Linked DNA regions of Homo sapiens: all the other regions are linked to region 3. Evidence: fine-mapped expression QTL. A gene starts in region 3. Each other region holds a variant in brackets. All regions are shown on one strand. Distances are between the middles of the regions. Region 1 holds the start of AKR7A3 (aldo-keto reductase family 7 member A3). Region 2 overlaps EMC1 (ER membrane protein complex subunit 1). Region 3 holds the start of AKR7A2 (aldo-keto reductase family 7 member A2).

What was found.
Region 1: its variant is fine-mapped to the expression of AKR7A2 in spleen (GTEx, PIP above 0.99). The same link has a PIP of 0.9 or more in sun-exposed skin and tibial nerve.
Region 2: its variant is fine-mapped to the expression of AKR7A2 in monocytes after Pam3CSK4 (Quach 2016, PIP 0.94).

The regions. Positions count from the first base shown.
Region 1 is chr1:19,288,315-19,296,537 of GRCh38, forward strand. AKR7A3 (aldo-keto reductase family 7 member A3) reads right to left here and starts at 456. Exons shown (of 7, transcript NM_012067.3): 1 at 182-456. The coding sequence starts at 395. It overlaps LOC124903867 (a long non-coding RNA gene), which reads left to right. Exons shown (of 3, transcript XR_007065521.1): 1 at 1-46. LOC100506730 (a long non-coding RNA gene) reads right to left here and starts at 7,422. Exons shown (of 1, transcript NR_037847.1): 1 at 4,933-7,422. RefSeq lists enhancers at 1-511, 512-1,333. The variant G/A (reference allele first, on the strand shown) is at 3,458.
Region 2 is chr1:19,238,465-19,246,464 of GRCh38, forward strand. EMC1 (ER membrane protein complex subunit 1) reads right to left here. Exons shown (of 23, transcript NM_015047.3): 2 at 6,442-6,566; 3 at 5,486-5,551; 4 at 5,150-5,243; 5 at 3,881-4,009; 6 at 2,552-2,678; 7 at 1,833-1,982; 8 at 1,354-1,521; 9 at 767-838; 10 at 331-393. It overlaps EMC1-AS1 (EMC1 antisense RNA 1), which reads left to right. Exons shown (of 2, transcript NR_135114.1): 2 at 1,793-2,240. Among named protein-coding and RNA genes, the nearest start is that of EMC1, 9.1 kb to the right of the region's middle. The variant A/G (reference allele first, on the strand shown) is at 3,217.
Region 3 is chr1:19,308,176-19,316,412 of GRCh38, forward strand. AKR7A2 (aldo-keto reductase family 7 member A2) reads right to left here and starts at 3,969. Exons shown (of 7, transcript NM_003689.4): 1 at 3,652-3,969; 2 at 280-467; 3 at 1-87. The coding sequence starts at 3,949. It overlaps SLC66A1 (solute carrier family 66 member 1), which reads left to right and starts at 4,151. Exons shown (of 8, transcript NM_001040125.2): 1 at 4,151-4,714. RefSeq lists enhancers at 3,560-4,059, 7,274-7,773, 7,685-7,854 and silencers at 3,651-4,290, 4,371-4,460.

The DNA.
Region 1 (8,223 bases), 20 kb before region 3:
CGGAGCTAGACGTGCCTAAGGAGCCTGGTGTTCCCAAGGCTGCGAGGTGAACAGGGGTGGGGGCGGTGGGGGGGACAAAACTTTGGGTGCTGCCCCGGGGCCAGGGAGAGCGGGGCGGTACACGGCTGTGGACAGGCTCAGCTCTGCACCGTGCAGGGGGAGGATCAGGGGCCACTGTTACCTCTGCAGTCGCTGCCGCCCAGCCGGAGCCCCAGGCCGCCAAGGATGGTCTCGGACTGGCCCTCGCTGTACACGAAGGCCGTGTCTATCTCGGTGTGGCCGCGCTCCAGGAAGGCGCGCGTGACTGCGGCGCTGGTGGGCGCGTCCATGCGGCGCCCCATCTCCATGGCGCCCAGCACCGTGGCTGGCCGGGCCCGCGACAGCTGCCGGGACATGACGGCGGCAACGGGAGACTGTGACAGCCCAGGAGCCGCGCGCAGCGGTCGGAAGCACCAGGCTCGGAGCGGGCGGCCTCGTGGCTTTAGAGACGGGCTCGGGCCCCGCCCACCGGCGGGTGCAGCTGAGGGCGCGGCCGAAGGTGCCCGACGCCGCCCACGAGCTCGACTCCACGCTCGGCTACTAGGACCTTCTGCACTTGCACCGAGCAAGCAGCGAAATGGCTGTGGCTTCGTACCGGTGACTCGCGTCTTGGAGATTTTAACACTCCTCAACGTCCCCAAGGGTGAGGGGGTCCAAGGGTGGCGACTATCCCAAAAGGCGGGGACTCTTCGGGCCTCCCTGCCCCGTCGTCCCTCCTTCCTCGGCCTTGCCCCGGAGCTGTCCTGGGTTTCTGTCTCCTCCCGGAGGGAGCGCTTACGGGGTGGGGTGGACCTAGGGCTGTCGCGCCTGCCGTGTGGTCCTGGAGAATGAGGCTTACCAAAGGCTCAAGACAGCGTCCCCATGGAGTGACATGGTTAAAGTGTTGAAAGAAAAGAACTGTTGGCATTGAATTCTGTACCTAAGTGAAAAAAAACTGACTGGCTCTGGTGACTTAACGCCTGTAATGCCAACACTTTGAGAGATCAAGGCAGGAGGATCACTTGAGCCCAGGAGTTTGAACCCAGCCTGGGCAACATAGGGAGGCCCTGTCTCAAAAGAAAAAAAAAAAGATAGAAAAATGGACCAGTGCCCAGCGGCAGTGAGCTGTGATAGCTCTACTGCACTCCACCCTGGGTGACAGAGGGCAAATCTGTCTCCAAATACAAAAGAAAAAAAAAGACCAATAGACAGATGGAACAAATGAAAAACCAATAGCAAAATTGATTTAAACCCAATCATATCAATAATTACATAAATATAAATGATGTAAATGCTCACAAGTAAAAGGCAGTGATTGTTAGAATGGATAAAAAAGCAAAACCAAACTATATGGTAAATACCAGAAAGCTATTCAAATATAAAAGCAGAGATAGTTTAAGAGCAAAAAGATGGGAAAAGACATACACTGACAAAACTAAATTTTAAGAAGTTGGAATGGCTAAGTGAATATCAGACAAAGTAGATTGCAAAACAAAGAATACTGGCCCACACAGTGGGTGACATACTAGCCCACACCTGTAATGTTAGCACTTTGGGAGCCTGAGAAGGGAGGATTGCTTAAGTCCAGGAGTTTGAGACTAGCCTGGGCAACACAGGGAGATCTTATCGCTACAACAAAATTTTAAAAATTATCAAATTGTGGTAGCATGCACCTGTGGTCCCAGTTACTTGGGAGGCAGAGGTGGGAGAATCATCTACGCCTGGGAGGTCGAAGCTGCAGATTGAGACCCTGTCTCAAAACAGCAACAACAACAACAACTACCAAAGACAAAGAGGGACATACCATAATGACAAAGAGGTCAATTAATAAAGAAGATATAATTCTAAATATATATGCACCTAAGCATAGATCATCAAAATACATGAAAAACAATAATGGAACTAAAGAACAAGTAGATAAATACAAAATTATAATTGGAGATTTCAACACACCATTCTCAATAGTTGTAGAACAGTTATCAGTCATAATTTACGGAAACTCCGTAAAGGTATACAAGACTCAATGCTATGAACCAATTCCACATAAACAACATGAATAGAATATCCAACAACAGCAGGATATGCATTCTTTTCAAGTGCCCATCCACCAAGATATACCATATTTGGAGGCATAAAACAAGTCTTAATAAATGTAAAAGAGGCTGGGAGCGGTGGTTCACGCCTGTAATCCCAGCACTTTGGGAGGCCAAGGCATGTGGATTAACTGAGGTCAGGAGTTTGAGACCAGCCTGGCCAACACAGTGAAACCCCGTCTCCACTAAAAATACAAAAATTAGCTAGGCGTGGTGGCGTGCCCCTGTAATCTCAGCTACTCAGGAGGCTGAGGCAGGAGAATCACTTAAACCTGGTTGGTGGAGAGTGCAGTAAGCCGAGATCAGGCCATTGCACTCTAGCTTGGGCAACAGAGTGAGACTCCATATTAAAAATAAATAAATAAATAAATAAATAAATTTGAAAGGATTCCAATCATACAAAGTACATCTCTGAACACGATGGAATTAAACTAGAAAATAATAACACAGGCTGGGTGCGGTGGCTCACACCTTTAATCCCAGCACTTTGGGAGGCCAAGGTGGGCAGATCACTTGAGGTCAGAAGTTCAAGACCAGCCTGTCCAATATGGTGAAACCCCATCTCTACTAAAAATACAAAAAAATTAGCCGAGCATTGTGGTGTGTGCCTGTAATCCCAGCTACTCAGGAGGCTGAGGCAGGAGAATTGCTTAAACCTGGGAGGCGGAGGTTGCAGTGAGCCAAGATCGCACCACTGCACTCCAGCCTGGGTGACAGAGAAAGACTCTACCTCAAAAAAAAAAAAAAAAGAAAGAAAGAAAAAAAGAAAAGAAAAGAAAAGAATAACAGAATTTAGAGCCTGAGAGGGAACTGAAAATAAGTAAATAAGTTAACAAATAGAAGAAAAAGGAAAAATAGAAAATAATAATGGAATGATATCTGGAAAATCCCCACATATTTAGAAATTAAATAACCCATGGGTCAAATATGTAATCACAAGGAAAATTAGATCATATTTTGAACTGAATGAAAGTAAAAACAGGACATATCAAATTTTCTGAGATGCAGCCACAGTAGTGCTATGAGGGAAATTTATAGCACCACTTTGACATATTACAAAAGAAGAAATATTTCAGATCAATAATGTAAGCATTTACTTTTTTTTTTTTTTTTTTTTGAGACACAGTCTCACTCTGTCACACAGGCTGGAGAGCAGTGGTGCAATCTCAGCTCCCTGCAACCTCAGCCTCCTGGGTTCAATCAATTCTCATGTCCCAGTTTCCTGAGTAGTTGGAATTACAGGCATGCACCACCATGCCCGGCTAATTTTTGTATTTTTAGTAGAGAAGGGGTCTCACCATGTTTGCCAGGCTGGTCTTGAACTCCTGGCTTCAAGGGATCCTCTC[G/A]CCTCAGCCTCCCAAAGTGCTGGGATTACAGGTGTGAGCCACTGCACCGGCCGAGGCTTGTACTTTAAGAAACCACAAAAGGAAGAGTCAAGTAAAACCAAAATTAGCAGAAGAAAGGAAATAATAAAAATAATAGCCAAAATAGGCTGATGTGGGAGAATCGTTTGAACCCGGGAGGCAGAAGCTGCAGTGAGCCAAGATCACTCCTCTGCACGCCAGCCTGGGAAACAGAGCAAGACTCCATCTCAAAGAAAAAAAAAAGCCAAAATAAATGAAATATAAAACAAAAACATCAGCAAAAGTCAGTAAAACCAGAAGTAGTTCTATAAACACATCGCTAAAGTTGATAAACCTCTGGCTAGACTGATCAGGAATAAAAGAGAGAATACACAGATTAACCACACCAGAAAGAGCAGAAGAGACACCACTACAAATTATACAAATTTATCATTTTAAGTGATATTTAAATGTCATTAAATGACATTAAATGACATTTTAAATGACAATAGGGTAGATTATTAAAACCTTTATGTGAATACATTTAGTAAGTTAGATGAAATGGACAATTTCCTTGAAAAACACAAACTACCAAAGTTTATGTTTGGAAAATGAGTAAGGAATGTGTTTGGAAAATGAGTAAGGAAAAATGAGACAGCCGGGCGCAGTGGCTCATGCCTGTAATCCCAGCACTTTGGGAGGCCGAGGCAGGCAGATCACTTGAGGTCAGGAATTGGAGACCAGCCTGGTCAACATGCTGAGACCCCATCTCCACTAAAAATCCAAAAATTAGCTGGGTGTGGTGGTGTGTGCCTATAATCAGTTACTTGGAAGGCTGAGGCAAGGAGAAACGTTTGAACCCAGGAGGCAGAGGTTCCAGTGAGCCAAGATCATACCACTGCACTCCAGCCTGGGCGACAGAGCCAGGCCCCGTCTAAAAAAATAAAAAAAACAACAACCTGAATTTTTTTTTTTTCTTAAGACAGGGTCTTGCTTTGTCTTCTGAGTTCAATGGTGCAATCATAGCTCACTGCAGCCTCAACGTCCTGGGCTCAAGCGATCCTTCTGCCCAAGCCTCCCAAGTAGCTGGGACTACAGGTGCACCTCAATACACCTGGCTAATTTTGTAAAAATATTTTTGTAGAGACAGGGTCTCGCTATATTGCTCAGGCTGGTTTCAAACTCCTGGGTTCAAGTATTCTTCCTGCCTCACCCTCCCAAAGTGCTGGAATTACAAGTGTGAGCCATCTCGTCTAGCCCAGATATTGAATTCTTGATAAAAAAAAATATTTCCACAAAGAAAACTCCAGGTCTACATGGCTTCATTGGACACTTAAGGAAGAAACAACATCAATTCTGGACAAATGTTTCTAGTATATAGAAGAGGAGAGGTCACTTACCAACTCATCTTGAAGCTAGCATTACCAGATACCAAATGACACAAAGATGTTACAAGAAAAGAAACTACACACATATCCTTCATGGATCTAGACACAAAATCCTCTTTATTTTTTTCAAAAATCCTTTTAAAATTTAGCAAAATGAATACAGTAGTAAATACAAACAATAATGCACCATGACCAAGTTAGTTTCATCCCAGGAATACAAGGTTGGCTTAATATTTTAAAATCAATCAATATAATTTACTATACTAACAGGCTATAAGACAAAACCCATATCACCATCTCAATAGATGCAGAAAAAGCATTTGACAAAATTTAATACCTATTCATGAAAGGAAAATAAACCTCTCAGCCAATTAGGAATAGAAGGGAATTCCTGAAACTGATAAAGGGCATCCATAGGCCAGGAGCAGTAGCTCATGCCTATAATCCCAGACTTTGGGAGGACAAGATGGGCGGATTGCTTGAGCCTAGGAGTTCAAGACCAGTGTGGGCAACATAGCAAGACCCTTCTCTACAAAAAATAAAATAATTTTTAAAGGGCATACACAAAACACCTACAGCTAATATACTTAATGATGAAATCAGAAAGTTTTGCCCTAAGATTGGGAACCAATGATGTCCACTCTTATTCAACATTGTATTGAAGATACCAGTTATTTCAATATATTTCTTTGTTGTTGTTGTTTGTTTTTTTTTGGGGGGGGGGGTGGGGGACAGGGTCTTGCTCTGTCACCCAGGCTGTAGTGCAGTGGCATGGTCTTGGCTCACTGCAGCCTTGACCTCCTCCTGAGCTCAAGAGATCCTCCTACTTCAGCCTCTGGAGTAGCTGGGACTACAGGTGCACACCACCACAGCTGGATAATTTTCTGAGTGCCAGTAGTGGCAACAACTCAATCACTAATATTCAGTGTTGATGGAGCAAGCTGGGTGTGGTGGCACGTGCCTGTAGTCCCAGCTACTCAGGAGGCTGAGGCAGGAGAATCACTTGAACCAGGGAGGCAGAGGCTGCAGTGAGTTGAGATTGCACCACTGCATTCCAGCCTGGACAACAGAGCGAGACTCTGTCTCAAAAAAAATAAATAAATAAAAATAAAAATAAAAATTTTTACCCTTTTGACAGCATGTCAGGCTTCTGGGTTCTGTTCCCCGAGCTCAACCCTAAGCCAAGCATTTTAAGGTTTGAGGAAATTAACTTCTCCCAGTTTGGAGGAACATTATAGAAGAAGAGATAGGAGCCATTTTAAATCATGAATGAAGGAAGGAAAAATACCATAGAAAAGTCTGGGGGTTTGGGTGGTAGAATTGGAGAAGCTGACAATGTGAAAGGGAGGGAGGAAGGGCCAGGGCATCTGGAAGTTTCATTTGAGGGGTTCCTGGGAGTTTGTTTCTCTAGTTTTGGGGAATCATTCCCTTTGGGCCTGTCTGATATGACTGCTGAAAGAGCTGAGTCCATTGTGCAATGCTTGCAAAGGTCTAGTAAGAAGGCCATGCTCTTGTGCAAAAGAAAATGAGCTGTTTTTTCTTCCAAATCTCAGAGTCAAAGGAGTCCCAGTGCTTCAGAACGCACTCCAGAGGAGGGGAAGGGGAAGACAGTGAGGGCGCCACCCCTACTGTTTTCCCTCCTTGGTTCCTGGGTCCCAGCATCTTGTTAAACATGCCTCCCATGGTTGCAGGTGTGACCCCCAGCCATGGAACCAGAGGAACTAAGTGATTGGGGTTAGTCATGCTTACCCATGTGACTCTAGTCCTGCACTTATGATTTCCTTTTGACTTCCAAGACTTGTGTGACCTGTGTGGCTCCCTGAAAAATGGATCTTGGGAGAGACTATGTAACAGTTGCATTTAGGCAACTGTTGTATTTCCCTCCATAATGGAGGAAGTGTGCTGGTTTGAGCTCTATATCCTGCTATTATGACTCGTGCTAAAGTACCCTTAGAGAATGGTTCCAGTTAACTTCCGGACTTAAATTACCCTTACTATTTAAGTACTATTTTAATTACAAGCAGAATAGGTGCCTTAAAAAAAACATAGGAACCAAATGGCTATTTTCCTGCTGATGGGACAGTATTGAGACTAAAATTTGGTTTTGGAGGACATTTTCCTCCTTATTGTTGAAGACAGAGTTTTCCCATTTATGGAAGTAGCATAAAGCCTGGTGTCCAGCAGAGGGGTGCAAAAAGGGAGGAGAATTGGGAAGCCAGAGTGTTTTGGCAAAGGGCTGACAATGTGCCTCATGGAGAGGATTCCTATGCCACTGGGTAGGGCCGTTGACCTTTAAATGCCATGTGCTCTCCAGACCAAGGGCAGAGAGAGACCTCACTATGGGGAGAGGAGGGGAAGACCCACTGTTCCTAGAAAATCACAAAAATGGCATTGCCTTGAGCTCTACCTCAGTTACTACGGTATTTCCTGATCTTGCCTAACAGGATTACTTCCTTGAACTGTAAAAATTCCCACTGCTTCAGAATGTTCTCCCCAGCAAGCCTGTCCCCCAAGTCTTGTAAGGCTGCCAGCCACACTAATCATTTTTAAATAGCTGAAGGGGGCCCAGTATTTGATTTGATTTTAAAATGGAGGCCAAGAACCTTGAAATGAAAGGACATGGTTGAGGTCCACTCCTGTCCTCACTGTTCTGATGATGATACCTTGATCCCACCTGGGGCCCCAAAATGAAGCAGTGTCGTTCATCTGGGGTAAGACCCAAGGATCATTGCCTCATGCCAAGGAATGAAGCAGTGTCGTTCATCTGGGGTAATACCCAAGGTTCACTGCGTCATGCCAAGGAAGTCAAGGACACGAACACATGTGAAGTGAGGTTAAGAGCAGAGGTTTAATAGGCAAAAGAAAAAGAGAATAGCTCTCTCTCCTGCAGAGAGAGGGGCACCTGAGTGGGTCTTCCAGCCTGCAGCAGCATGCACAAGGACAGGCATGAGGAGGCAGTGTCTGATTTACATAGGGCTCAAAGATTGGTTGAAACAGGTGCGATGTTTACATAGTACAGGAAGAAGCTCCCCGCCCCACCCTAATCTATTTTGCAAATGGATTTTTTTTTTTTTTTTTTTTTTTTTTTTTTTGAGATGGAGGTTCACTCCTATTTCCCAGGCTGGAGTGCAGTGGTGTGATCTCGGCTCACTGCAACCTCCACCTCCCAAGTTCAACAGATTCTCCTGCCTCAGCCTCCTGAGTAGCTGGGATTACAGACGCCTGCCACTACACCCAGCTAATTTTTGTATTTTTAGTAGAGACACCATTTCAACGTGTTGGCCAGGCTGGTCTTGAACTTCTGACCTCAGGTGATCTGCCCGCCTCAGCCTCCCAAAGTGTTGGGATTATAGGCGTGTGCCACCGCACCTGGCCACAAAT
Region 2 (8,000 bases), 70 kb before region 3:
GGAACCTATGCCTCCAGCCAGGGGCTCATGCCTCTGCTACAGGGTAACTGCACAGAGTACTACTCAACTGTGCCAGCCAGGATCCCAAAAGAAATGGGGACGCTGAGGCCCAGAGGAGAAAGTGGCTAGAAACAGACTCTAGGGATTCTACCTCCTAATCTCCCGGTAAAATGAGATTAAGAGAAACATCATTTAATTTACAGTACTTAGGAAACCTCATTTGAAGCTGGGAACTCTAGGACCTGCTCCTAACCAAAGCTCTTCCCCCAACTCTCTTTGGTGGCCTCCTGCGTCTCTAGGTCTGGCATACTGCCCAGTGCCACACCATACCTTTGAACTAGACTTCTCCGAAAAGCTCCCCATTGACCCATCTTCAGAACTGCTACTTTTCTGCTATGAGAAAGAGAAGGACAGGAGAAAATTCAGCCAAAGGGTCACTTCCCAGTCACTGAAATGAAGCTTTTGTTTTTGTCTTCTTAGCACTTGAGAGAAGACAAAGCTCATTTCTCACCCCTGCCCACAAAGCCTATTCAACCCTTAATAGCCCCATATGAAAGTAAGGTCATCACATTAGGGTCTCGTTCCTGGGGAGAAATGGGGTGTGCAGAAAGCTCTATAGTTGAGGCAAGACCTCACTTCTCAACAGCCTCCTGCCCGCTGGGTTCAAACTGACCAGGTCAATGTGCCCAGACTTCTGATTTTCAGGGTTCCTAGTGGAGACCAGGAAGGAAAATCCCAAGTGCTGACTGTTGTTCTCAATACTCACCACTTCATTCCGACAGGCCATGACTGCAGCCACCGTCTTCTCCCCAGTGGTGGCAAAGCTCACTAGGGCAGTCTGGGGGAAAAGCAAGGCATCAGCTCCTAAATGGGACCAGTACTAGCCAGCTGCCTTACAGAGGGTCACCTCTCCAGGGAAGGCCCTTGGCCTTAGAGTTGAAAGTGCTCCCCACTTTGGAGCAGAATGGTCAGGCATTTAAGAGCAGAGGGAGGCCTCAGTTGCATCTACAGCTGAAAACAGAACTCTCCCTACCTCCAACGCAGGCACAGGTCAATCTTAAATCCCATGCTGCTTGTTCTTACTATCTATGGGGAAGCTCTCATTTATGTCCCCATATTTCCTTTGGACTAAGGAAGGCACTAGTTTTGCTCTAAAGATCCTTTGTAATACTCAGGAGGAAATACACCATTTCTATGATAAGGCTACCTACCCCCTCTCAAACCACTTACGGGAAGGTGTCATCAATCTTGGGCCTAAGAGCAAACGTTTCCAGATTCAAAAGCACTGCCTTCTAGCATCCATGTCTTGGAGAGATCTCCTGAATCCTAGCAAACCATGTTGCCTGCAGTTACCTGTGGGAAGTTTTTAAGCAAACTCAGCGTTCCATAATGGTACTGCAGCAGAGCATAGTGGCTTGGGGACAAGTGCAGGAAGAACTGGGCCCGGGAAGCGTCCACTGGGTTGGGCTGGGTAGGCAGGACCCGGGGTTGGAATCCACTTCCAAATTCTAAGTCGAGAGACTGGAAGGCAAGAAGGAGGAGGATTATGGCTAACAGCTGACGACTCCCTGACCCATCCCAGGCTCACAACCTCTGCCCTACTTTGCCGGGGGAAGTAACTGGGCCATGGCAGGTGGCTCCAAATGCTCCAGTTCAAGTTCCCCAAAGAGGAAAGTGACTGATTTCCTCTTACACCAGTTCAGCCAGAGGCCTGAATGGCTTCCACTGCTCAGGAAGAGTCTAGGAGAAAGACCCTCCAGGGGAATCATGCCAAACTTTCTACTCCCCGCAGGAAATGCCTCAGGCCAGAAGAAGCAGTGGCAGCCTCTCACCTGCAGTGGGATCTGTCTCAACTCCCATTCCGTCTCCAGAGCCAAAGTTTGGAGGGAACGTGAGCTCGGGTCAGGACACACCAGGACAGCCTCATCCACCACACCACAGGCTCCAGACAGGTGCTGCAGCCACGGAGTTGAAACCCTAACCTACAGAAAAGTCATCGTTAACAGGAAGCTCGTGAAAGATTTTTACATTTCCCTCTCAGCCCAACAGCAATATTGCTGCCAGCATCCCACTGGGGGTCCTAAGCTCAAAGGTTCTTCATGGTTGGTTGTATAGGAGTTCTTCCTGTCCCCTGAAACCCCACCCTCCAACCTCCTGAGAGCCTTCAAAGTTGGAAAAAATATCAGGATTTTCTTTCTGGTCACTGGAAAAATATATCCGATAATTTTAAATACCTGGCACTTCAGAATCAGCACTTCTTTACTATATTTGCCATATGTGGTGTCCTACTGTGATTTCACAGCACTGTAAGATACTTACAGGCAGAGACTAGATCTATGTAATTTTTTAGCCACCCCAGAAGATAACACATGCAAATATGAGTACTTTAAATAGAGGCCTAATGGGAAGGCAGCTGGCAAGTGACCAGAATGAGGGAGCATAAGTAGCTTTTGCATCTGCCCAGCCAAGTTCCCTGTTCCCCAGTACAAAGAAATCTATCAAGTCTCCCCCAACCCCACCTTATTCACAGGCTCCTGTCACCCTCCTGTACCTGCTGAACAATCTCTCCATCTTCCACATTAAACTTGACAATGTTCACATGGCTGAAGGGAACAACTCCGAGGGCCCACACCACCCCAGAGCCGTAAGAATACACCATCTGGTAGTGGATGCTGTCACTAAGAGAGGGAAGAAGAAACCGCAGCGTCAGCTTTCAACCCAGGACAGGATTATCCTCAGGGGCTGCCAGGCCTCAGCCAGATGTCACAAACTAGTAATTCCCAAATAGGTTTTGTTTGGCTCACACAGTTTGGGGGCTTTTGTTGTTGTTGTTCTTAATTTGAATTAGTTGTCAACATTTAGAAGATATTATACTTCACAATCAGATTTCTAAATTTTCCTACGGTTAGAAGATGTGGCAACACTAGGCCTAAATACAGAGCACCAATCAGGTGGGTAAGGCTGCCCCCTCCAGGCAGGCCAGGAGCACTGCAGCTCCCATCCAGCCAGTGTTGCTCATGGATATTTCATAACCCGCCTCATAGCATTTTCTTTGTTGTGTTTTTTTTTAGACAGCGTCTCACTCTGTCACCCAGGCTGCAGTGCAGTGGTGCGATCACGGCTCACTGCAGCCTCTACCTCCCGAGGCTCAGGTGATCCTCCCACCTCAGCCTCCCAAGTAGCTGGGATCACAAGCACGCACCACCATGCCTGGCT[A/G]ATTTTTTGTACTTTTTGTAGAGATGGGGTTGCCCAGGCTGGTCTTGAACTCCTGAGCTCAAGTGATCTACCCACCTCAGGCTCCCAAAGTGCAGGGATTACAGGCGTGAGACACCATGCCAGGCCAGAATTTGAAGTTTTGAGTCCTGCTCTAAACTTTGAAAATGGCCACAGGGTGTCTAAGTAGATCCTTTTATCTTGTTCCTTCTCTCTTGTTCCTTCCCAATTTCGATGCTTTCTACCAGCAGGACCTCGAGAAACCATTTCACACCTCACTCAGCCTACCCTGGGTCTTCTTGAGTTGTTCTAACTCTTAATATGAACGAAAGGCTCAGTCAGAACTAGAACTAGAACTAGAACTTGAACTAGAAGTCAGAAGGCACAAAGTACCATAACCATGAGCGAGTGAGTGGCTCCCGTAGCATGGCTCGCCCTAGCACCCCAGTTTGAGAGTGTTCTCCTCAGTGCAAAGGAAACTCCAGGCATACTCCGGAGTTTCACCCATACTCACAGCCTTCAAGATATTCTGAGTGCAACACACTCCATGGAACACCAACAAGAGACAGGCCTGGGTTAAAGCAAATGCTTCGGGTCCCTCGAGGAGAAAGAGGAGCTCCTAGAGAGTAGAACGAGGCAGCTATTGCCTGTGAGCAGGCAGCCTTACCTTTCTGGGAGATGTTCCACCCACTTGAGGTGCCCACTGGAGAGGTGATGGAGGGCAAGTGTAGTCTTCTTCAGGACTGCGATGTACCTTACAGACTCCTGCAGGCCAACCAGCCCAAGTGCCTGGAAACTGAACACAAGTACAGGTTGAGAGCAGCCCACACCTGCAGAGCCTCAGGCTGGGAGAGACAGTCCAGAACAGTACCCACTGTTGCTTAGTGGGTAAGAAAACAGGCTTTGGGGTCAAACACAGCTGGATCCTAACCCTGGCTCTGCCTCTTGTTAGTCAACTTGAGATTCTGCACTTGCAACCATTTGGCCACACTACTTGCTTCCCTGAAACCATCTGTATCTCCTAAGGGCTGTTCCCTCCTTCCCCTGGGACTTCACAGCAACTGGACCTACCCTCTGCCACATATCCATGAGACAGTGCTGTCATTACTGTGCTACCTGCCTGCCTCCCAATGGACAGCGGAATCCTCAATGACAGCAACTGTCTCACAGTCCCATGTGTTCTCATCGCCTGGGGCTCAGCACGTGTTTACCAAATGAATTACTATCAGAAAATGTATAAGCTAATACAAATGACCCTATCATTTGAACAACTTTAGGGGCCAGGCCCGGTGGCTCATGCCTGTAATCCCAACACTTTGAGAGGCTGAGGTGGGAGGATCACGGGGTCAGGAGTTCGAGACCAGCCTGGCCAACATGGTGAAACCCCGTCTCTACTAATAATACAAAAATTAGCCAGGCGTGGTTCACATGCCTATAATCCCAGCTACTGGAGAGGCTGAGGCACGAGAACTGCTTGAACCTGGGAGGTGAAGGTTGCAGTGAGCCAAGATCACACCACTGCACTCTAGCCTGGGTGACAGAGTGAAACTATGTCTCAAAAAACTCAATAAATAAAAATAAACAACTTTAGCAAAGATGTTAACAATAGGTCAGGCTGTTCTTTAAACAAAACTAAACAGTGGAAGTTTTATATTATGTTCTTATATCTGGAACATTGCAAAACTCACGAATCACAGTGAAATTAGGAACAGCATTCAAGCACAAGCGCAAACATTGCACCTAGAAACTCTGCATCTAACAGGCGCTCAATACATGTTGGCTGAGCAAGCATATCCACAATGGGTACTCAATGTCAATGGCTGGCTCTTCAGTGGTCCCTGGGAAAAAGCCAAAAGCCCAGAGTTGCTGTCTATGCAGATCTGTGTTCCGGTGAAGCCTTTAACTCAGTCAAGATAAAATCCAGTTTCTCCCCTACCTGCCACTGTCCAGGGTTATCTCCCAGTTCAGGCCCCCGATGTTAGTCTCCCAGGAACGCATGATTCGGCCTCCATTGGACACAGTGATCACATCTGGAAAAGAAAAGATCGTGGTGAAGTCATTTCCCACTTGCTCTGTCGCTTCCTAGGGTCCCACTGTGAGCAGTGGCCTCACCTCTGATTTCTGGATGCAAATACATGTTAAACAGGTACCTGTCCTTCACTGTCAGGAGTCCCCAGTCTCCTTTCCCTACCAGACCCTGTACAGATCAAGGAGCCAAGGAATGGGACAGGGAGCTGGCCGCACAATGGAGACACGGGAGGACTCTGCTTACCCTGTCCGTGCAGCAGCATGGCATCCACAGCCCCTTCTGCCGTGCCCTTGTCAACATGGCGCCACACTGAGAGACATGAAAGTTAGACATTACTATGAACAAAAGGTGGCAACCCAGAAGACTAAGAAATAAATGAAGAGCTCTTCATTTGCACAGCAATGTCCAATTTTATCTCGAGGGAGTGAAGGAGTATAGCTAACTGGCAGTGATCCAGTCCCATTCACGGGGTAATGAGGGTAGAAGGGGTTAAGAGGGGCCACTACTGTCCAGGCCCCACTACCACCCCATCAAACATATAAACAAACAACAATAAGATTAATAAAATCCATCCAATTCACAAGAAAAATAGTGATCATAAATTCTATTTCCCTTATTTTAGTGCCTAAAAACATCCGGCCAGTGTAGGTAATTAAGTGAGGGTATCTGAGAGTTTACTGCAAAGTAGAATAATGTGTTTTTTGCAGCAGCATCTTTTTTTTTGAGACAAGGTGTTGCTCTATTGCCCAGGCTGGAGTGAACTGGCATGATCACAGCTCACTGCAGCCTCAACCTGCTGGGCTCAAGCAATCCTCCCACCTCAGTCTCCCAAGTAGCTGGGAATCTAGGCACACGCCACCATGCCTGATTTTTTTAATTTTAGACATGGGGCCTCACTGTGATCCCCAGGCTGGTCTCGAACTCCTGAGCTCAAGTGATCCTCCCGCCTGGGCTTGCAGCAATATCTTATTTAAGGACACTCAGGATTCAAGCTGAGAGAACAAACCGCAAAGGTCAGTTATAGGAACATACAAATATTCAAAGATGGTAAGACTGAAAAAAAAAAAGTATCAGAATCCACTAGGAGAGGCATCTTTTGGCCAACATGTTCCTTATTCAGGAATCAGCCAGGCAGAGTTGGCAATGGTAAGTCTTTCATCCCTGAGGCAGCCAGTAGACACAGTTCTCAGTTCACTCACAGATCTCCCCAGTTCGGGAATTTAATGCTGCAATCACATTCTTCTCTGTGGCTACAACCAACTTCTTGGATCCAGGGGAAAATTCCAAGGAGGCAAACTTGACCTTCCCAACATATTGCTGTCTCCTGAGAAAAAAAGAGTACAGGGGACCATAAGGAGCTAAAATCACCATTCCACAAAATGCTCCGGAAAAAAAATCACAGGGCTATCACCATCACATTCATTTTAGGACACATAAGACGTGTTTGTTAGCTGGGCGCAGTGGCTCACACCTGTAATCCCAACACTTTGGGAGGCCGAGGCAGGCAGATCACCTGAGGTCAGGAGTTCGAGACCAACCTGATCAACATGGAGAAACCCCGTCTGTCTCTATGAAAAATACAAAATTAGCTGGGCATGGTGGCGCATGCCTGTAATCCCAGCTACTCGGGAGGCTGAGGCAGGAGAATTGCTGGAACCCGGGAGGCGGAGGTTGCAGTGAGCTGAGATCGCACCATTGCACTTCAGCCTGGGCAACAAGAGCAAAACTCCATCTCAAAAAAAAGAAGTGTTTGTTAGTGAAGAGCTCTGACCAAAAGCAAGATTTCCATTCAATGTAGTCAGATGCAAAGAGAGTAAGAGAAGAAAATTAGCTCCTAATAGATAATACTAACTCTTCCTTCTAAATGGAAGCACATATTTACCTTCAGATAAGTGACACCCAAAAGGGCACCTTACCTTTCTTTTTTTTTTTTTTGAGACGAAGTCTCACTCTTGTCCCCCAGGCTGGAGTGCAATGGTGCAATCTCAGCTCACTGCAACCTCCACCTCCCAGGTTCAAGCGATTCTCCTATCTCAGCCTCCCGAGTAGCTGGGATTACAGGCACCTGCCACCACGCCCGGCTAATTTTTTTGTATTTTTAGTAGACATGGGGTTTCACCATGTTGGCCAGGCTGGTCTCGAACTCCTGACCTCAACTGACCCACCCGCCTCGGCCTTCCAAAGTGTTGGGATTACAGGCGTGAGTCACCACGCCCGACTGAGATCACAGCACTTCTTAACAGCACAGAGCAAGCACCTCCTTTGTACTTGGTAGCCTACCATGTGAGGCTAATAATTTTCTCGATTAGGATCGCTTGAGCCCAGGAGGTCGAGGCTGCAGTGAGCCGAGATCACACCATTGCACTCCAACCTGACAAGACTCTGTCTCAAAAAAATAAACAGGCCAGGCGCAGTGGCTCACGCCTATAATCCCAGCACTTTGGGAGGCCAAGGTGGGTGGATCATTTAAGATCAGGAGTTCGAGACCAGCTGGCCAACTTGGTGAGAACCCATCTCTACTAAAAATGCAAAAATTAGCTGGGCGTGGTGGCACGTGCCTGTCATCCCAACTACTCGGGAGGCTGAGGCAAAAGAATCGCTTGAACTCAGGAAGCAGAGGTTGCAGTGATCCAAGATCGTGTCACTGAACTCCATCCTGGGCGACAGAGTGGGCCTCTGTCTCAAATAAATAAGTAAATAAAATACTGTTGTTTTATCTGGATATAAAAGTAATGCCTCCTTATTACAGAAAATGAGT
Region 3 (8,237 bases):
GATCCAGCCATTGCTCTTGCAGAGGGTACAGATCTCGGCCACTTCCCAGCTAGCATAGTTGGAGAGGCCAAGCTCCACGAACTTGCCCTGCATGGGTGAGGCTCCAGTCAGAACGCAGTGTAGCCCAGACCAGGAAGGGGAGGCCAGGGTGGGGCCCCAGGGAATGGGGCTATTCCCTGCCCCACCCTGGGACTGCCCTGGTGCCTCTGCTCTCATGAGTAGGATCAGGATAAAGAAAGGAGCAGGAGCCCACCTTTGGAGCTCGGAGGGCCCCCTCACCTCCTGGTGCAGCCGCTGGCAGGCATGCAGCGTCTCTTCCACCGGGGTGCCGTGGTCAGGTGCGTGTAGGTAGAAGAGGTCCACTTGGGGACACTGCAGCCTCTTCAATGACGTCTCCAGCTGGGACCGGACACTGTCAGGCTTTAGTGATTTTCCATCCCAAGGGTTGGCCTTGGTGGCAATTTTCACTTGGAGAGAGAATGGAATGGTTAAGTGACCTATTAGAGCCATTTGCTAACCATGTAACCCTGGCTAAATTACTAATATTCTCTTGGCCTCAATTGTATGATCTGTAAAATGGGGTGATAATAATCAAACTGTCCTCATTGGGAGGTCCTGGGGATTAAATAATGTCATATATGTGAGTTCTCAATGTTCACCTATTAGAATAACTATCATTAGTCACCAACCTGCTGGCTGTGCCAGGCCTTGCACTAGAGACTGAGTATGCAGAGATGAACTGAACACAATGGATCTCTGCCCTCCTGGAGCCCTAGAGGATGATGGTACAATATGGTAAGCACAGGAGGGAAAGGCACACGATGCCAAGGAGCCCAGATGAGATGCATGAAGCCAACTTGGAGACTCCAGGGAAGGCTTTCTCTAGGGGATCACTCCCAGAGTCCCAGCCAACAAGGAAGAGCAGGAAGTACACTCCAGAGCATGGGAACCCATGCAAAGTCAAAGAGGCAAAAAAACACTATGTGAGGCTCCAAACCTTCAAGTCTAAGTTATAAGAGCATAAATTCTAGAGCAAGGAGCAGTGGGACGTAGGACAAGAGACAGGGACAGACCTCATCCCAAAAGTTCTTAAATACCATCCCACTGAATCTGAACTTGATCATTCCAGATTTTGTCAGGGTGTGAACCGGTCACCTGTGTTCACACTTGGCTGCAGTATAGAGAAAGAAGTCAAGGGGGCAGGCCTGGAAGAGTTTAGGAAAGCGAAGCAGCCACATAAATGTGGCCCAGTGGTAGAGATCAACTTGAGAGCTTAGAAGGCAAACTGAGCAGAATGTAATTATAATTCTCCCCTCCCCTTCCTGACTCACAGAAGCATGAGCATATATCCAAACACTGTAGGGACACATCGCTATGACAACAGTGTTCTGCATCCGAGCAGCTTGGAAATGAGTTAATTCTGCACTATTCTTTCCCCTATAAAGAACCCCAGCTGTTGGTCCAGATGTAGTGGCTCAAGTCTGTAAACCTAGTTTGGGAGTACTTTGGGAGGCTGAGTAGGGAGAATTACTTGAGCCCAAGAGTTTGAGATAATCCTGGACAATGTAGCAAGACCCTCCCTCTACAAAAATAAAAATTAAAAAAGAACCCCAGCTGGGCCAGGAAAGGTAGCTCACGCCTGTAATCCCAGCACTTTCGGAGGCTGAAGTGGGTGGATCACCTGAGGTCAGGAGTTCGAGACCAGCCTTGGCCAACATGGTGAAACTCTGTCTCTACTAAAAATACAAAAATTAGCCAGGCGTGGTGGCACGTGCCTGTAACCCCAGCTACTTAGGAGGCTGAGGCAGGAGAATCACTTGAACCTGGGAGGCAGAGGTTGCAGTGAGTCCAGATTGTGCTACTGCACTCCAGCCTGGGCGACAGAGTGAGACTCTGTGTCAAAAAACAAAAAACAAAACAAAAAAAAAGAACCCCAGCTGTCTGGATTGGTTGGGGGATGGATTCTGCACTTTTCATACTTAGCAAAGTCAGCTCAGTAGCTCAGAAGGGTGTCACGAGATCAGTTGGGATATGGGACAGAACAAGTTCCACAGTTTCTCATCCAGATTTTCTCCATTTCCCCACAACGCCCCAGGCATTCTTGGCATGAACTGTGCCTCAGGCCTGGCCTGAGGACTTTGGTTCAGTGAGCTCCTGGCCCCAAAGACGGAAGCGGGGAAGGGTTAGAGAAGAAAAACCAACTCAGGAACAAAATCTTCATTATTAATAGTATGTAACGTGGCCGGGCGTGGTGGCTTACACCTATAATCCCAGCACTTTGGGAGGCTGAGGTGGGCAGATCACTTGAGGTCAGGAGTTGAAGACCAGCCTGGCCAATATGGTGAAACCCCATCTCTACTAAAAATACAAAAATTAGCTGGGCGTGGCCGTGTGCACCTGTAATCCCAGTTACTTGGGAGGCTGAGGCAGAGGTTGCAGTGAGCTGAGATCGTGCCATTGCACTCCACCCTGGGTGACAGAGCAAGATTCCGTCTCAAATAATAATAATAACAAAAACAACAACATGCAGCCAGGTGAACTAGAAACAGCGTGGGCCTGAGATTCACATTTGCCCTCTTTTCCCCCCGACCCCCCAAGCGCTATGACTCAGGAGGACCCAGAGAGAACCTCTCCTCAGGGGTGGGGAGCAACAGCCTCAGGATAGTCCAGTGGGTGAAGCATGGTAAGGGTAACAGCCCACGTTCCCTGGGCCCTCACTGAGTGCCAGGCACCCTCCCAAGGGCTATCAAGGGCACCAGGCTCACGAGGGACAGTCCCCTCCATCCTCCACTCAAGCCCCACCTGCCCAGTGGCCTTCCTTTCACACATCACGCACATTGCATTTCCAAACCAAGTCTTTGCACAGACTCTAATGTTCCTTTCTCTTGTTCTCCTCCAACCTACCATTGAGCCTTTAAGGCTGAGCTCCATCCAGCATTTGCTGAGCCTTCCCTAGTGCCTCTCCCCGGCCTGCAGCTCCCTAAAGTACTCTCTCTTCTGGGCTCTCCAGCAATCATTACTTCAATCTTCCTCATTAGACTCTGAACTCCCTGTGGAGGGCTGGAATCACTTTCCCTCCTATGGCCCCAAGTCAAAGCCTGGCATAGAGTGGATAGAAAGTCCCTACACCCTGACCCGTCCGCACTCCCTAACACTCCTACTCTCCCAGCCAGCCTTACGGCATCGCCACAGTTCTCCCTGAGAGAGGCAGAGGTACTGCCAGCTGCACAGGTCAAATTCTAGTGGTTAAGAAAAGGCCAGGATGAGAAAAGGGTGCCCAGGGTGTGCATGCGTGATGATGGTAACGAAGGGGTAGAGAAAAGGGGGAGAGCCTGGGTGGGGACCGGTTGTGGGCACCTGGCAGGTTTGGAGGCGGGGGCATCAATGGAGGTGGGAAGCGATGGGTCAGACCAGGCTGGGGGGAGACTCTCGCGCTGCAACTCCCAAGGGAAGGAGAGTGGGGGAAAGGAGTCAGGGCAAAGCACTGTCTAGTTGTCCCGGGGTTCCCAGAGCTGCGGGGTGGACCTGGGGTGGGGAGCGAGGGACGAATCCGTCGGTGCTGCCCGCGGCCGGGCCCGAGCGGGGTGGTGCACGGCTGGGGACAGGCTCAGCTCTACACGATGCATGGGGAGGATCTGCAGCTACTGTTACCTCTGCAGTCGCCACCGCCCAGCCCGAGCCCCAGGCCGCCCAGGATGGTCTCGGACTGGCCGTCGCTGTACATGAAGGCCGTGTCCAGTTCGGTGTGGCCGCGCTCCAGAAAGGCGCGCACGGCCGCGGCGCTGGCGGGCGCGTCCATGCGGCGCCCCATCTCCATGGTGCCCAGCACCGAGGCGACCCGCGGTGGCGGTGGCCGGGACATGGCGAGCGCGCGGGCCTCGGGCGGCGGAGAGCGAAGCGCGCAGTGGACGGCGGCGCGGGAGACTACGCGAGACGCGGCACTCAGCATAGCAGCGGCGCCTGCGCGTTGGGAGCCGGGGGCCCCGCCCATGCCGGGGAGGAGCGCGGAGGCAGTTGGGGGCGGGGACAACAGGCGCGGCCCCAGCGGCGCCTCCAGGCCCGGTCAGCCCAGCGCGCGGCGTGGGGGCGGGGCCTGCGGTTCCCGCGGGGGCGGTGGCGCGCGGTCAGCTGACCCGGCGGGCCTTGACCCAGAAGCTGGGCCCTGGCGGCGGATCTGGACGTGGTGAGCCGGACCGGGGGCAGGTGGCAAACTTCACGGCTGGGGGTCGGGGCTCCTGGGCTTCCCTGCCACATCCTTCCAGCCCTCTCCTCCGGCCGCTGGACTGTCCCGGCTCCTGCGCCCTCCTTGTGGCGCGATATCGTGGGACGAGGCTCCGGGCCGGGACTGGGTGGCCCTCGGGAATCCGCAGCCAGTGGCCCCCCACCTCAAAGGCGACCAGCGCGGCCTCTCGAGCTGGCCTGGCCAGGAGTTGCCCTGCCCCGGCCGACCGGCCCCTTGGCATCTGATGGCTTCGTTTTTCCCGGGCCGGCCGGGCGAGGGGCCCTCGCGGCGCTGGCCCCAGCAGCTGTCCTATCATTATCCCTCCAAACAGGCGGCCCGCGCCGGGCTGAGTCACCAGGAGGGAGCTGTGGCCGAGGACGCCGAGGCCTGGAGTGGGTGGTAGCCCCGAGCTGGGACGCTCCTCCCTCCACAATCTCCCCAGGTCTGCAGGGACCGAGGGCCTACACTGCCTCCTCCCACGCCGTGCTTAGGGTAGGTTTCCAAACGTGTAAATGGAGAGTCTGAGTCTGGAAGTGTGAGGGGTCCCGGGCCTGGGTCACAGGTCATGTCTAATCAACGCTTACTGAAGGCGCCTGTGTGCCCGGACGCTGGAGGGGCTACAATGAGAACAAATAATAGTCATTTTGGGCTGTTGGTGTTGAGTGCCAGTGCCAGGCACCCTTGTAATCGCTTGGCCTGGATTGTCTCATTTAACTCTGCAGTCAGCCTAGGTGGTGGGTATTGCATTATTCCCCTACTTTTCAGATGAGAACTACGAAGCTCAATCACTTGAGTTCCAGACTGGTAGGCATCGGGCAGGTCTGTTCCAGAGTGCTTTTCTCCTCAACCCTGGGCTGTTCGAGCTCACAGCTTTCTCCCCTTCCTTTCTCCTTTCCTTCCTCTTCTCTCTCTTCCACCCTTTCTCCTTTCTCACCCGTTTCCTCTCTTCTTCACTCTGTCCTTCTCTCTACCTCTCTCTTTCTCTCACTGTCTCTCAACATTTGCTGAACCTCTAGGTGTGTTTACACCTGGAGAATAAGAAATGCACAACCCAGGGTGGGGAGAGTACGTTTCAAAGACAGTGGTCGCAGAGGACGGTGGTAGCGTTCTTCAGGTGTGTGGACAAGGGGAGAGGAGGAGGTGGAAGGTCCTGTCCAGCCAGCTCTCATGGGGCATCTTTGAAAGGGCAATTTAGAAGTGAGTCTTCTTATCTCATGACCAGGCCCTTGAAGGGGAGCAGGACACTTCTAGGGGAAGAGATGGCACGTGCAGAAGCCTGGAGACCTGAAATGACTGAAGACGTGGGTCAGGAGGCAGGAGATAAGGTTGGGAGGGCAGTTCTTGGAGTAACTTGAGGCCTAGCCTCAGGTAATTTGGACTTCATCCTGTAGACAAAGGTGGACACATGATTGGCTGTGATCATGTGCCCGAAGCACCCTGACTCAGCTTGGGATCAGGGAGAGGAGTTTGGGTGTGGCAGGAGATGTCATCTCCAGCCCAACCTTTCTCAAAGTGCACTAGATGGAGCAGAATCGCTGGAGGGCTTCTTAAACCCAGAATCTCTAAGCCCCAGCCCAGGTGCACTGACTCCAAATTTTGAACATGCACCCTCCAAGGGTGATTCCAGGGTACCGCTTCTGGGGTCCTTCCCATCCCTGCAGGTGAGGTCAAGCTCCATTGCAACCTTGGACATCCATTTGCTCAGAGCTGTTTGAACAGGATGTGGGCCCATGCCTGGCTTCTAGGTGACAGGAACTACGCAGGATGGCCCTCAGAGCCAGGCCTTTCTGTTCAGGGATCAGGTGTGTCTCAGAGTGTCCCGAGCTCCACATTGCACATGGGTCCTGTCCAAGGTCAGGGGGACACCCACCCAGTATCCTGGATCCATAAACCAAGGTACCTTCCTCAAGACAACTCCCCAACACGCACGCATACTGGGGTGCATCCATTTCATTTCCTCCTTAACCTAGGGAAAGGGGGAAGTGAGAGAGAGGCCGCAGGGGCCATAAACCAAGGTACCTTCCTCGAGACAACCCCCCAACACACACATGCTGAGATGTGTCCATTTCATTTCCTCCCTAACCTGGGGAAAGGGGGAAATGAGAGGGAGAGTCCCCAAGGTGGTTGAGATGCTGGACTCTCATCCTGAAAACAGTCGCTGCCATGTGTTGTCAGGCACAGGGCTGAGAGCTTTATGTGCATTTAGTCAGGGCAGCTGCCCCAAGGAGTGAGTGTCGTTAGCCCCATTTTATGGACAGGCTCAGGCAGGTTAATTCACTTCCAGGGCTGCTCAGCCTCACCTGTCAAATGAGCACAGTATACCCAACCTTGCTGGGGAGTGGTGAGGATGGCAGTGGATGAGCTGCAGCCTTGTGTTCAGACTCTGCAAGGGGGTGTGGGGGTGCACCCCAGTTGGCAGTGGTGGCTGAGAACATGAGGACTTGATTTGAAATGCCTTTGGCCTTGCAAACGTGTAGTTCTCACCTGGACTATATGGTTTTTTTTTTGTTTGTTTGTGTTTTGTTTTGTTTTTGAGAGTCTTGCTCTGTCACCCAGTTGGAGTGCAATGGCGCGATCTCAGCTCACTGCAACCTCTGCCTCCTGGGTTCAAGTGATTCTCCTGCCTCAGCCTCCTGAGTAGCTGGGATTACAGGCACGCACCCACCACGCCTGGCTAATTTTTGTATTTTTGATAGAGATGGTGTTTCACCATGTTGGCCAGGCTGTTCTCCAGCTCCTGAGCTCAAGTGATCCAACTGCCTTGGCCTCCCAAAGTGCTGGGATTACAGGTGTGAACCACTGCGCCCGGCCACACCTGGACTATATGTTAATTTGGAGTGGCCTTTCAGGGGCCGGAGATGGAGCATCAGGTGAAGGCTTCCAACATCATCTGTGCTGATGGTCCCCCAGGTGGGCCACGAAGACACAGGGAAGAGGCTTTCAGCCTCCCTGCCTGTGCCAGGCCCTGGAGGTAGTCCAGTGAGCTGGGCTGACAGTGACCTGGGGCACCCTTACCTTTAGGTCCAGGGTCTCTGCCCACAGCGAGTCACATTAGGGCTGAGGGTCTACGGCTTCCTGAGAGGAGGTGCTGACTCACTTCCTTTCCCTCCCGGTGCTCCCTGGTCTCTGTGTCCTCAGCAGTTCCGTGGGGCCAGCCAGGGACTAGCTGGGGAGCCCAGGCCTCCTGACACAAGTGGGAATGAAGGCAGCTAGAGACAGCCCCCACCTGGATGAGGAAATCCCCTCTGAGCACAGGGAAAAAAGAGGAAGCCCACTTTCTGGCTGTGCAGTCATGCCAGACCACAGAGGCTTCTCTGTCTCTCTCTCTCCCTCCCTCTCTCCCTCTCTCTCTCTCGAGCCACAGAAGTCTTCTGCTTCGCTGGTGACAGATGGACCTGAGGCGGGTGGTGTGGCAGGTGGCTATGAGCAGGGGTGTAGGTCTGAGTCTTGGGTTTGACTCTGTAGTTTCCTGGCTGGGTGGCGCTGGCACATCACTTCCGCACTCTGGCTCAGGCTCCTTGTGGATATCAGTGGTCCCCACTTCATAGTTGCTGGGAAGATGCAACATGAGTGCATGCAGGATGCTTGGCTCACCGGTCCGAGCTGTGGTGATGATCACTGATGGAGATGGCCCAGCCGAGCCTCACTTTCCCTCCCTCCTCTAAGGTGTCACGCAGGCAATGACTGCTCTACTCACTGTCCAGGGTGCCCGGGTAGCGGGAGAGGCCTGCCCTGCCCACCCCTGCGATCAGCCATATTCTGGCTTTGTCATTGTGACGGTGGGGAGGTGGCTGTGGACTCCCTGCTGTTAGGCATCCCCCCCACACTCTGTGAGCTCCTGGGAGAATACAGGCTGCATCGTCCCAAACTTGAGTCCTTGTCATTCATGCAACCCCGGGGATCCCTTGCTCCTCTTCTCCACTTGCCTCATCTGTGTGGGGCAACTCTTTATGGTTTGTGTGTGTGTGTGTGTGTGTGTGTGTGTGTGTGTGTGTGTTTTCTTTTAAGACAGGGT